3 linked regions of the Homo sapiens genome follow. The protein of the gene in region 1 interacts with the protein of each later gene in a pairwise test. Each region holds a gene or a part of one and is shown in the gene's direction. Other genes may lie near its edges. The genes, in order: ZC2HC1C, YWHAG and CHAT.

The links.
Region 2: the proteins of ZC2HC1C (region 1) and YWHAG interact in binary tests that used the Homo sapiens proteins (3 or more experiments, as listed by UniProt).
Region 3: the proteins of ZC2HC1C (region 1) and CHAT interact in binary tests that used the Homo sapiens proteins (3 or more experiments, as listed by UniProt).

What each region holds. Positions count from the first base shown.
Region 1 is NC_000014.9:75,072,488-75,076,140, forward strand, and holds part of ZC2HC1C (zinc finger C2HC domain-containing protein 1C), read left to right. Parts: intron 1-3,653.
Region 2 is NC_000007.14:76,348,839-76,352,491, reverse strand, and holds part of YWHAG (14-3-3 protein gamma), read left to right. Parts: intron 1-3,653. UniProt on the Homo sapiens protein: Adapter protein implicated in the regulation of a large spectrum of both general and specialized signaling pathways. Binds to a large number of partners, usually by recognition of a phosphoserine or phosphothreonine motif.
Region 3 is NC_000010.11:49,616,884-49,620,536, forward strand, and holds part of CHAT (choline O-acetyltransferase), read left to right. Parts: intron 1-2,841; coding exon 2,842-3,033; intron 3,034-3,611; coding exon 3,612-3,653. UniProt on the Homo sapiens protein: Catalyzes the reversible synthesis of acetylcholine (ACh) from acetyl CoA and choline at cholinergic synapses.

The sequences.
Region 1 (3,653 bases):
CCATTTAGAATGTAAACACCTTGAAGGTAAAAAGGACTTTCTTTCTGGTTATCTTACAAACCATGCCCTTGCCAATTATTTCTCACTTTAGAAAAACCAGGTTGGAAAAAGTAAGGGTTTCGTGACACTTACATGATAAATTTAGGTGAACTTCATAGGCACATTTGGACATATCTGGAGAAGATTGTCTCATAAATGAATGACATGTCAAGGTTGTGCCACTTGGTTTATAAAATGGTTATTTCTCAAGGTGTGGCATGCTGACAAACTTTATTTTAGTAGTTTTAGTGTTTAGTGTTGTATTAGAAAAATTGATTCGTCGTTTAGTGTTATATTAGGAAAATATAACAATATATTAAGCCCCTGATTTCCAGGGATCATGAATTTACAGAAAAATATTAATTAGTTGTAAGGATGAAGTGAAAGTGCAGATGATTGAAGTTTGGGAAAGCGTAGATCATATGATCTCAGAGGCCCCATCTAGTTCTAATATTCCAGAAGAATAAGAGAGTGTCATTCTGTTTTCATTTCTTCCCAACCCTCCCTCCGCTGTGCTGGCACCTCTTGTCCATTGGCACTTTACAGTTTCTGTGTATTTGCTGGAGCCTTTAAAAACTCACATTTATATGATGGTTGTTAGAAGAAATTGTTTACAATTAGAGTTCTTTCTTTTAGTAGTTTGGAGAAATCACAAGGAAGTCCCATCCATGTTCAGAGATCATCTCCCTGAAATCTAGTTTCCAAAGAAGAAATCAGCATTTTGCTCTTGCAGATAATAATATGATCACCACTTACTGTTTTTTCCTGTTTTCTTTCAGTTCAACCCAGTAATCCACTGGGAATTCACTCTATGTCCCACTGTAGCGATTTATTTTTGGCCAGAGCCTAAAAGAATCTTGTGTTTCTTAAATTCGTAAATACAGTTACGGTGAAGCAAAATAATTAGGTTCCTGAGATCAGATGCTCCAGCTTTATGGCAACTAGTTTGTGGGAATGTGTGACATTGAGGACACCAAGACAGAAGGGACCTAGACTAAGATGCACCTGCACCACCCTGGTAATGTCTCAAATCTTATTCCACAGTGCTGTGCCTTTGGAAGCTGAGTGGTTGTACCTTCCTGTCATTCCTCTAGAGTACTCAAGAACAGGTGATTTTCCTGGTATCCTTTAATCTTCACGTAACTCCCAGCAGACGTACACCCTGTCTCTCTCCTGGACTGTAAGCATTTTTGAGGACAGGGAACATATTTTGTGCTTTGTGCTTAATAAGTGTTAACTGAATAGAATTTCAGTACAATGAGGAATAAAATTATAGGAATTAGAGTATAAGAAGTAAATTACTAAAGGATCTCATATACTTGAGGAACTTTCCCCTGATCAAATTCTTTGAGAGGAACTTTCCCCTGATCAAATTCTTTTTTTGAGACCGAGTCTCGCCCTGTTGCCCAGGCTGGAGTGCAGTGACGCGATCTCGGCTCACTGCAGCGATCTTGGCTCACTGCAGCCTCCACCTACCGGGTTCAAGCAATTCTCTGCCTCAGTCTCCTGAGTAGCTGGGATTACAGGTGCCCGCCACCACACCCAGCTAATTTTTGTATGTTTAGTAGAGACGGGGTTTCACCATCTTGCCCAGGCTGGTCTTGAACTCCTGACCTTGTGATCCACACGCCTCAGCCTCCCAAAATGTTGGGATTACATGCATGAGCCACCGTGCCTGGTCTTCGAATTCTTTTAAAGGTTCCTGGATACCATCGCTAATACTCTCTTGCCTTCTTGTCTGTTTTGGCAAGAGACTTTCTGGAAGGATCCTTTCTTTTCCTTTGATAGTATCTCTTCCTATTATTCATCATTAACAATGCCAGATCACCAAGAGCTAGTTGTCTTTTTTCTCTTTAAAAAATTTAATAGTGTTTGCATGCATTTAAAAAACATGTAGTACTGAATGACCTATAATGGAACCCCTAATTCAGCCCCCGGAGGCAGCCTTCAGTTCTGTTAGATGGTTCTTCTGGTCTGCCTTTCCATATTTCCAAATAATATGCTTATTTTCTTGATTTATCAATTTTCTACATTACCTGTTTTTTTTTGTTTTGTTTTGTTTTTTTTGAGACGGAGTCTCTGTCGCCCAGGCTGGAGTGCAGTGGCTTGATCTTGGCTTACTGCAACCTTCACCTCCCGTGTTCAAGCAATTATTGTGCCTCAGCCTCCTGAGTAGCTGGGCTTACAGGCGAGTGCCACCACGCCCGGCTAATTTTTGTATTTTTAGTTAAGACAGGGTTTCACCAAGTTGGCCAAGTTGGTCCTGAACTCCTAACCTCAAGTCATCTGCCCACCTCGGCCTCCCAGAGTGCTGGGATTACAGGCGTGAGCCACGGTGCCTGTTCTACCTGGTAACTTCTTATGGAAGCTGGGAGTGAAGTTCTCTTTCATATTCCCTCTCTCCTACTGTTCTCTTTCTCTTATCCTTCCACTGTAGTCGAATCACAATTTTTGGTTAAAAGTAGTTAGCTTTCACATTGTAATGATCAAGTAAATTTTGTTCATTAATGAGTGAACAAATTCTGTCTCTGCCCACATGTACCTAAAATTAATAATGGACGTATGTTTTCATTTCCTTCATTTTCTACATACCTGTCTTTTTCTCCCCCGCAACGATCCATCTGATATCAGACATCTGTTAACGTTTTTGTAATGCTCAAACACCTCTCATAATCTATCAGTTTGATTTTTTAATTCTGAAAACCTCCCTTCAGCCACTCTGATCCCTTCTGCTCCAACCTGGACTGGGTATTCTCTAGGCCTGGTGCAAACTCATTCTCTTGGAACTTCTCTTTGCTTCTCTTCTTTGTTGGGTCCTCTGTTTCCAGCATCCTGTGTCTTCCTTTTTCTTGCATTACTCCTTCCTTTGCTGAAGCTTACTAAGAAGGGTGCATAGCAGGTATATTGTCTTGGAATGAATGACACTATCTATATGACAGGCTCCCATTTGATGATTTGGCTAGGTACAGAATTCTAGGAGGAAAATGATTATCTGTTAGAACTTTTAAAGTATTTCCCACTAGCTTTTAGCATCCAGTGTATTGTTGTGAAATCTAATGCCATTTTGATTCCTGTTCCATTACAAGAAACCTTTTTTTTTAAAAGGCTACGGGATTCTCTATTTATTTTGAAATTCTGAAACTTTACAATAATTGTGCTAGATACTTGGTAAGCCATTTCAATCTCAAAATGTGTGACCTTTAATTCTAGGAATGTTAATTGTATTATTTCCTTAATAATTTTCTCCTCACCAGGTGCTGTGGCTCACGCCTATAATCCCAGTACTTTGGGAGGCTGAGGCAGGTGGATCACCTGATCTCATGTGTTCAAGACCAGCCTGACCAATATGGTGAAACCCCATCTCTACTAAAAATACAAAAATTAGCCGGGCGTGGTGGCGCACGCCTGTAGTCTCAGCTACTTGGGAGGCTGAGATAGGAGAATCGCTTGAATCTAGGAGGCTGACGTTGCAGTCAACCAAGATTGCGCCACTGCACTCCAGCCTGGGTGACAAAGCAAGACTCCATCTCAAATAACAACAACAACAAAAACAAAACAAAACAAAACAACAATAATTTTCTCCTCGTGCTTTCTCTGTTCCTTCTGCAACTCTT
Region 2 (3,653 bases), on another chromosome or scaffold:
GGTACCCAGCTTTCCTCTGAGCAGGGGTGTCCGAGTTGGGAGTATGACAGTGACAGCAGTGGCCAGCTGAACACGTAATGACAGTAGCTGAAGAGGAGTCACTGATCCACCCCCAACCTGCCGCAAGCTGAGTATGAAGAGCAGCTGCCGTGGGCAGGGAAGTGAGGAATGGCTAAGGGAGCGAGGGGAAGGCTTTAAAAAGCCAGGTTTCTTTTGAAGCCGTAGAGATGATTTACATTTCTTGAGCTGTCTGAAAGGAATTACTCATATGACTCTAAAGCTACCATATTTAAAAAACCCAGATCTGGGAAACAAAATGCCTATGGTGCTAGTTCTTTAAGAATGTAGAAATCAGCTTGAATTTTTGACTGTTTCTATACAGACTGCTTTTGTAGCAATCTAACATGAAGCAGTGAGCATGTCTTTGCAGTGGAGGTGCAGCATAGTGAGTAGCCATGCGGATAACCCCATACTCATTGGCAGTATGTTATAATGTGAGGGCCCGCCTGGCCTGGGTAGGCTAAAGAGCAGTGGTCCCCAACCTTTTTGGCACCAGGGACCCGTTTCATGGAAGACAGTTTTTCCATGGACTGGGTGGGGTGAGGGGTAAGGGGATGGTTTGGGGATGAATCAAGCACATTGCATTTATTGTGCACTTTATTATTGCTACATTGTAGTATGTAATGTAATAATTATACAACTCACCGTAATGTAGGATCAGTGGGAGCCCTGAGCTTGTTCTACAATTAGATGGTCCCGTCTGGGGGTGATGGGAGACAGTGACAGATCATCAGGCATTAGATTCTCATAAGGACCATGCAGCCTACATCCCTTTTGTGTGCAGTTCACAGTAGAGTTGGCACTCCTTTGAGAATCTAATGCCACCGCTGATCTGACAGGAGGCGGAGCTCAGGTGGTAATTCGAGCAGTGGGGAGTGACAGACTTCCTGCTCTGCAGCCAGGTTCGTGACAGGCCATGGACCCGTTGGGGACCCCTACTATAGAGAATAGATGTTATTATTTTCAAACCTTCACATTGGGTCTTGTATCTGTGTAATAGAGGTTAAGACTGGAAGTTATTTTTCCTACTAGGTTGAAAAGACCCTACTCAGAAAGGCGAGAAGAATGAACAGGAGAGGAGAATACGAACAACAGAAAAGGGCATTCCAAGGCGAGGAAAGCTAGTGGGGACAAGGGAGTAGGGAAGGAATATTCTAGAATATCTTGGATCTTGGAATGCCATGCCTATTTAAGGGAGTCTGTAGTCTTTGGAAGGCTGTGAACAATGGGATTGACTACTGAAGACAAAAATGTTGGTGGCCTTTCAGGATGCTAGAAATTTCGGGGGGAAATGACAAGAAGAATCACCATAATGATTCACATGCAGGGATATTTCCATCGTGTCTTTTTCTACAGTTTATATTCTTTTGCACCTTGCTTTTTTCACTTGACATCATTTCAATGATATTCTGTCATTATTTTCAGTAGCTGAATAATCCTGTGGATATATCATAATTTAATTATTTTTTTGCTTAGTATTCAGGCTGTTTCCAAATTTACATTGTAAATAATATTGATGTGTGGGTATAGATGGTCCCTGATTTCAGATGGTTTAACTTAACGATTTTTCTTTTCTCTTTTCTTTTTTTTGAGACAGTCTTGCTCTATTGCTCAGGGTGGAGTGCAGTGGCGCGATCTCAGCTTACTACCACCTCTGCCTCCTGAGTTCCAGCGATTCTCCTGCCTCAGCTTCCCAAGTAGCTGGGATTACAGGCATGTACCACCACGCCCGGCTAATTTTTGTATTTTTAGTAGAAATGGGGTTTCCCCATGTTGGCCAGGCTGGTCTCCAACTCCTGGCCTCAGGTGATGTGCCCGCCTTGGCCTCTGGAAGTGCTGGGGTTACAGGCATGAGCCACTGCGCCTGACCTTAACCTGACAATTTTTCAACTTTATGATGGTGCAAAAGCAGTAGGCATTCAGTAAGCTCCTCCACTTAGGATGGTCATGTCCCCATAAATGAGTTGTACATGGAGGAGTATCTGGTATCTTTCAGGCACAATTCGTACGTTAAGACAGACCCAAGAGGGGAATTGCTGGAAAACCAGCTAAGAATAATGTTTAAGGTCCTCACTAGTACAGGACCTTGAAAGTTTTGAAAGATGTGTTTGAATAGGTATTATGTATACATGTTTCAGAATTCAAAAGGCACCCATTGCCCTTTGTCCTCTAGGAAGGAAAATGAGGTTGAAGCAGGGGTAGGCTCGATGCCAGCTTATTTGAGGCAAGGGCCCATCTCCCTTATGCTTCTTTGGAGTGATTGCCTTTTTTTTCCCTTTGACTAATGGAAACTTTCAAACATACAAAATAAAGACAAATAGTACAGTAACCCCCGTACACCCAGCTTCACCATTTTTCAGCACATCGGTCTTTTATCTGTATTTTCTTACTCTTCTGGCCTCCTCGGGGATTATTTACCAATTTGGAAGATGGCTTTTTGGAGACAGTCTTGCTCTGTTGCCCAGGCTGGGGTACAGTGGTGCAATCTCAACTCACTGCAACCTCCCCCTCCTGGATTCAAGCAATTCTCCTACCTCAGCCTCCCCAGTAGCTGGGATTACAGGTGCCCACCACCACGCCTGGCTAATTTTTGCATTTTTAATAGAGACCAGGTTTCACCATGTTAGCCAGGCTGATCTCGAACTCCTGACCTCAAGTGATCCACCTGCAGGCATGTTTTTGTTTTTCATCGTTTGCTGGCCATGTAGAAAAAGACTTCAGATGTTTGGAACTTGATCTATTTATTGAGGAAGGGCAAACAATATGGCACAACTTCAAACAAAGCTATCATTAACAGATTAAATTTTTACAACTTACATAGAATGTATTTCTACCAACATTATTTGGAGCTGTGGCATGTAGATTCTCAAAAACACTTGCTGAGTGAATTACAACTACCTGTTACTTTCATTTTTTGGTACCCTGTTGCATTTTGATCTTGGTTTTCTCTTTTCATCATCTGGCTGTGTGTGTGTGTGTGTGTGTGTCTGTGTGTGTGTGTGTGTGTGTGTGTATTAATAAATGATGACCAAAACGCGTCTGGACCGCAATGGAAAACTTAACGGTACTTTTTGGTATTTTTTTTTTTTTTTTTGAGACAGAGTCTGCTCTGTCGCCCAGGCTGGAGTGCAGTGGCGCGATCTCAGCTCACTGCAAGCTCTGCCTCCCAGATTCACGCCATTCTGCCTCAGCCTCCCGAGTAGCTGGGACTACAGGCGCCCACCACCACGCCCGGCTAACTTTTTGTATTTTTAGTAGAGATGAGGTTTCACCGTGTTAGCCAGGATGGTCTCAATCTTCTGACCTCGTGATCCACCTACCTCGGCCTCCCAAAGTGCTGGGATTACAGGCATGAGCCACCACACCCGGCCGGGAAGACGAGATTTTTTAAATTACACACTTAGATGAAATATTGTAATATAGTTTGACGTTTACTGTCACCTTGGGAAGCATTTTTATGTACTTTTCCCATTTAATTTCACAACAGTTTTATAAAGTGATAATCTTCTGATTTTAAAGGTGGAAATGTTTAATTTGCCTTAAAATTTTTTTTTTCAAAGTCTAAGGCTCATGGTTTGTAATCCCAGCACTTT
Region 3 (3,653 bases), on another chromosome or scaffold:
CTTCATCCCAGCTTCCACTTCTGATAGCTTTGAGCCCAGTGATTTTGCCTTAGGGTGGGGCTGAATTCCTACTCCAAGCCCTGCAAGTCCCAGCTCCAGCTGCTATCACTAGTTCAGCCTTGGAGCCTTAGGCACCATGTTCTCCACTGGCCTGAGACAATGCCATCCTCCCTGGGCAGGCATCCTCCCTCCCGCCCCAGCCAGCCTTCGGGTGGCAGAGCAACACACCTGACTTCAGGTGGTTGCATGTGTTTCCCCTCTCCCACACTTGTCTTTTTGCCACTCCTCTTCCCCCTTCCCCCTTCCCCTTTCCCCCAGCCCTCATTTGAAACCCTGAGCAGAATTTTCTGGCTTCTCCCCAAGAAGCTGTTCACTCCATTGCCCTGAATTCTGCAGCTGACAAACATCTATTGTCACCTCTGGTCCACTGGCATGCTTCTCTACCCACCCCATTGGGCTGTGGCTTCCTTCAGAGCAGGCTCTGTTTCTCCATCGTCTCTGAGTCCAGCCCAGGATCTGACTCACATGAACTGCCCAGGAAACATGGAGTTTTGGAGCATTGATCTGAGACTCCCAGGTCCAAAGACACTCCTTAGCACAGGGCCAGAAGTCCAGGAGAGTCTGGGGAGGATCCCTGGGGGGTTGAGATGTCTGAGCTGCGATTTCCTGCTTTATTCCTTTTTACCCACTGCTGATTCCCTGTTAGCCAGGCTAAGTCACAGCGCACTGTCAGAGCCTGGAAGAAGGGGAGCAGTGTCTGGCAGAGGATCTAGCCAGACTTGTGGGCCCTTTTGGCCAGGTCACTAACTGGGCTGGGCTTTCTGTAGGTGCTCACCCACCCATCACACAGACCACCCCCCCCACCGCAAGAGATGGAAGAACAAGATCAGCTGGGTTGGGGGCCCAGACCTGGCTCACTGGGGTTGGGCAGGGCAGTCTGGGATGCTGTCCAGATCCATCCTCGCATCATTCCCCAGGGCAGGAGCAGCCCGTAGTTGGCACTGACACCCCACTGTTGCCAGAGAAGTGAACCCTAGAGGCAGGATCAGACAGGCAGAGGGCCGTCATTCATCCATCAGCAGCAGGGGCAGAGAAGGAGGTGCTTTTAAGGGGCCCATTCACTCTGCAGCCTATGGGGAGGAACCCTTTACTGTCTCATGGAAACTCATCACTGCACAAAGAAGCCCCTGAAGGAAGGTGCCTCACTGTCTACCAGTGTGTCCCAGGAACCATATTGCAGAATTCTGGTCATTAGGGCAGCAATGAATTATGTCTCTTATCCAAAGCCATCTTTTATCCTTCCAAATCTCTCCACAAGAGTACACCCTTCAGGTCCGGAGATCAGCTAGATTCTGGAGCCCCAGCTGAGAACAGTTTATAAATTAAGACTGACCAGGAGACAACAATATCAATAACAGGACTATTTCATCTTAGATCTATCCTTTATGGCTTAAAAGCACTTTCACGTACATTAGCTCTTTAATCCTATGAAAGGCAGGGTTTGCTACCCCCATTTTACAGGAGAAGAAACTGTACAATTTAAGCAATATTATTATAAGTTCTGCCTTCCTATTGTCACTGGCCAAGTGAGGGACAAGAAGAGGAAACGAATGGAAAAGGGAGTGAAAGGGAAGGGAGAGAACGACCCAGGAGAAAGAAGCAGAGTGGACATGGAAGACTGATTTTAGCTCCTAGTCTGCCATCAGATTTGTATGTGACCTTGGACCAGCTGCTCCACTCTCTGGGACTCAGTTTCCTCATTCATAAATGGGAAGTCACAAAATTGAAGCCACACAGAAGCCTTCTGTGGTGAACGCTGCTGGTGAACTGAGAGGCACAGCATGCGTATAGAAGGGTGGAGTTGGGGGTTCTTCCTAGACTCTAGCCACACTTTGGGGCCCCCAAAGAATATGGGTTTCCTCTTGGGAATTCCTCTGGAAGTATAAGATAGCGAGGTCATAACATTTTAGATGTGCCTATTTGAGGCCAGTTGTTCCCCCATTTAATTCTCTCTGTGTTCCTCTCAGGTAGGAATTGTTATTTATGTCCTATGGATGAGGAGCAGAGGCTTGGAGAGATTCGGAGAGGAAGGACATCCACTGCATCCCCACCCCTGCCCCTAACACCCACATGAAACAAAATTCCCTGCCTGGGTTTTATAAGTAGGAGGGACTTATAAGAAGCTCAGGGCATGAATCATCTTCTGAGGAACCCTCTTTTAGAATTCTAGTCATTAGGGCAGCACTGAATTATGTCTCTCATCCAAAACCATCTTTTATCCTTCCAAATCTCTCCCTAAGAGTGCCCCCTTCAGGTCCAGAGATCAATCAGATTCTGGAGCCCCAGCTGGGAACAATCTCTAAATTAAGAGTCACCAGCAGCCAACAATATCAATAACAGGACTATTTCATCTTAGATCCATCCTTTATGGCTTAAAAGCACTTTCATATCTATTTTCTGTTTGATCCTATGAGAGATAGGGGTTACTACTCCCATTCTACAGAGGAAGAAACTGAGGCACAGAGGGAGGCTGATTTGCCCAAGTTTGCAGAGCTGGTCAGTGGCAGGGTCAGGGTAGAAACCCAGGTCTGTCTGATGCCAATATCACCGTATTTTCCTCTGCACTTTATCCCTTTCTGGGGACAGAGCACAATGAGGTCAGGGACGCCAAACAGGAACTTCCTAAATTCATAATTTTGCTGAGCTGAGCCCTAGAAATGGAGGGGTCCCAGGGTAGAGAACAACACAGGGGCAGAACAATACAGATACTAGGGACCAACTTGGGGACAGGCATGGGGCGCACATACTAGAGGCACAATGCCTATGAACCCTTTCTTCCAGGGGCTGCCCAAACTGCCCGTGCCCCCGCTGCAGCAGACCCTGGCCACGTACCTGCAGTGCATGCGACACTTGGTGTCTGAGGAGCAGTTCAGGAAGAGCCAGGCCATTGTGCAGCAGTTTGGGGCCCCTGGTGGCCTCGGCGAGACCCTGCAGCAGAAACTCCTGGAGCGGCAGGAGAAGACAGCCAACTGGGTAAGAGGGGCAGACAAGGAACCCATAGAAGAGGGGCGGGAGGCAGACCTGGAGACAGAGGGATCTCGGTGAGAGGCAGGTAGGGGACAAAGACAGGGCAGAAGGAGAGATGAGGGACAGGGATGGGGGATAGGTGTGGGAACAGGCAGGTGGCATGGATTGGAGGACAGGAAGGGACAAGGATGAGAAACAAACAAGATGAGGAATGGGAAATACGGATAGAGAAAGAGGCGGACAAATCGGGGACAGGAATTGGGACAGATGAGGACAGAGATCGCATTAGGAAAGAAGAGAGGGTGAAAGGCAGGAAGAAGACACCTGTAAGGACAGGCAGAGGACAGCGATGTAGCACCAAGCCACCAGGATGGGGACTGGGACAGAAGAAAGGAGACAGGAGGGCACAAAGGTGAAGGACAGGCCTGGTGGACTGGGAAGCTCCTGGCACATACCTGGGGCTTAGCATATATTTGTGGAATGAATGAATTAATGCTCTGGTGAAGTGTCCCGATTTTCTCTCGGGGCTGTCAGGATGGGACTGTTTGGGGGGATGTGACGGCCTTCCCTGCCCTCCCCGGCAGGTGTCTGAGTACTGGCTGAATGACATGTATCTCAACAACCGC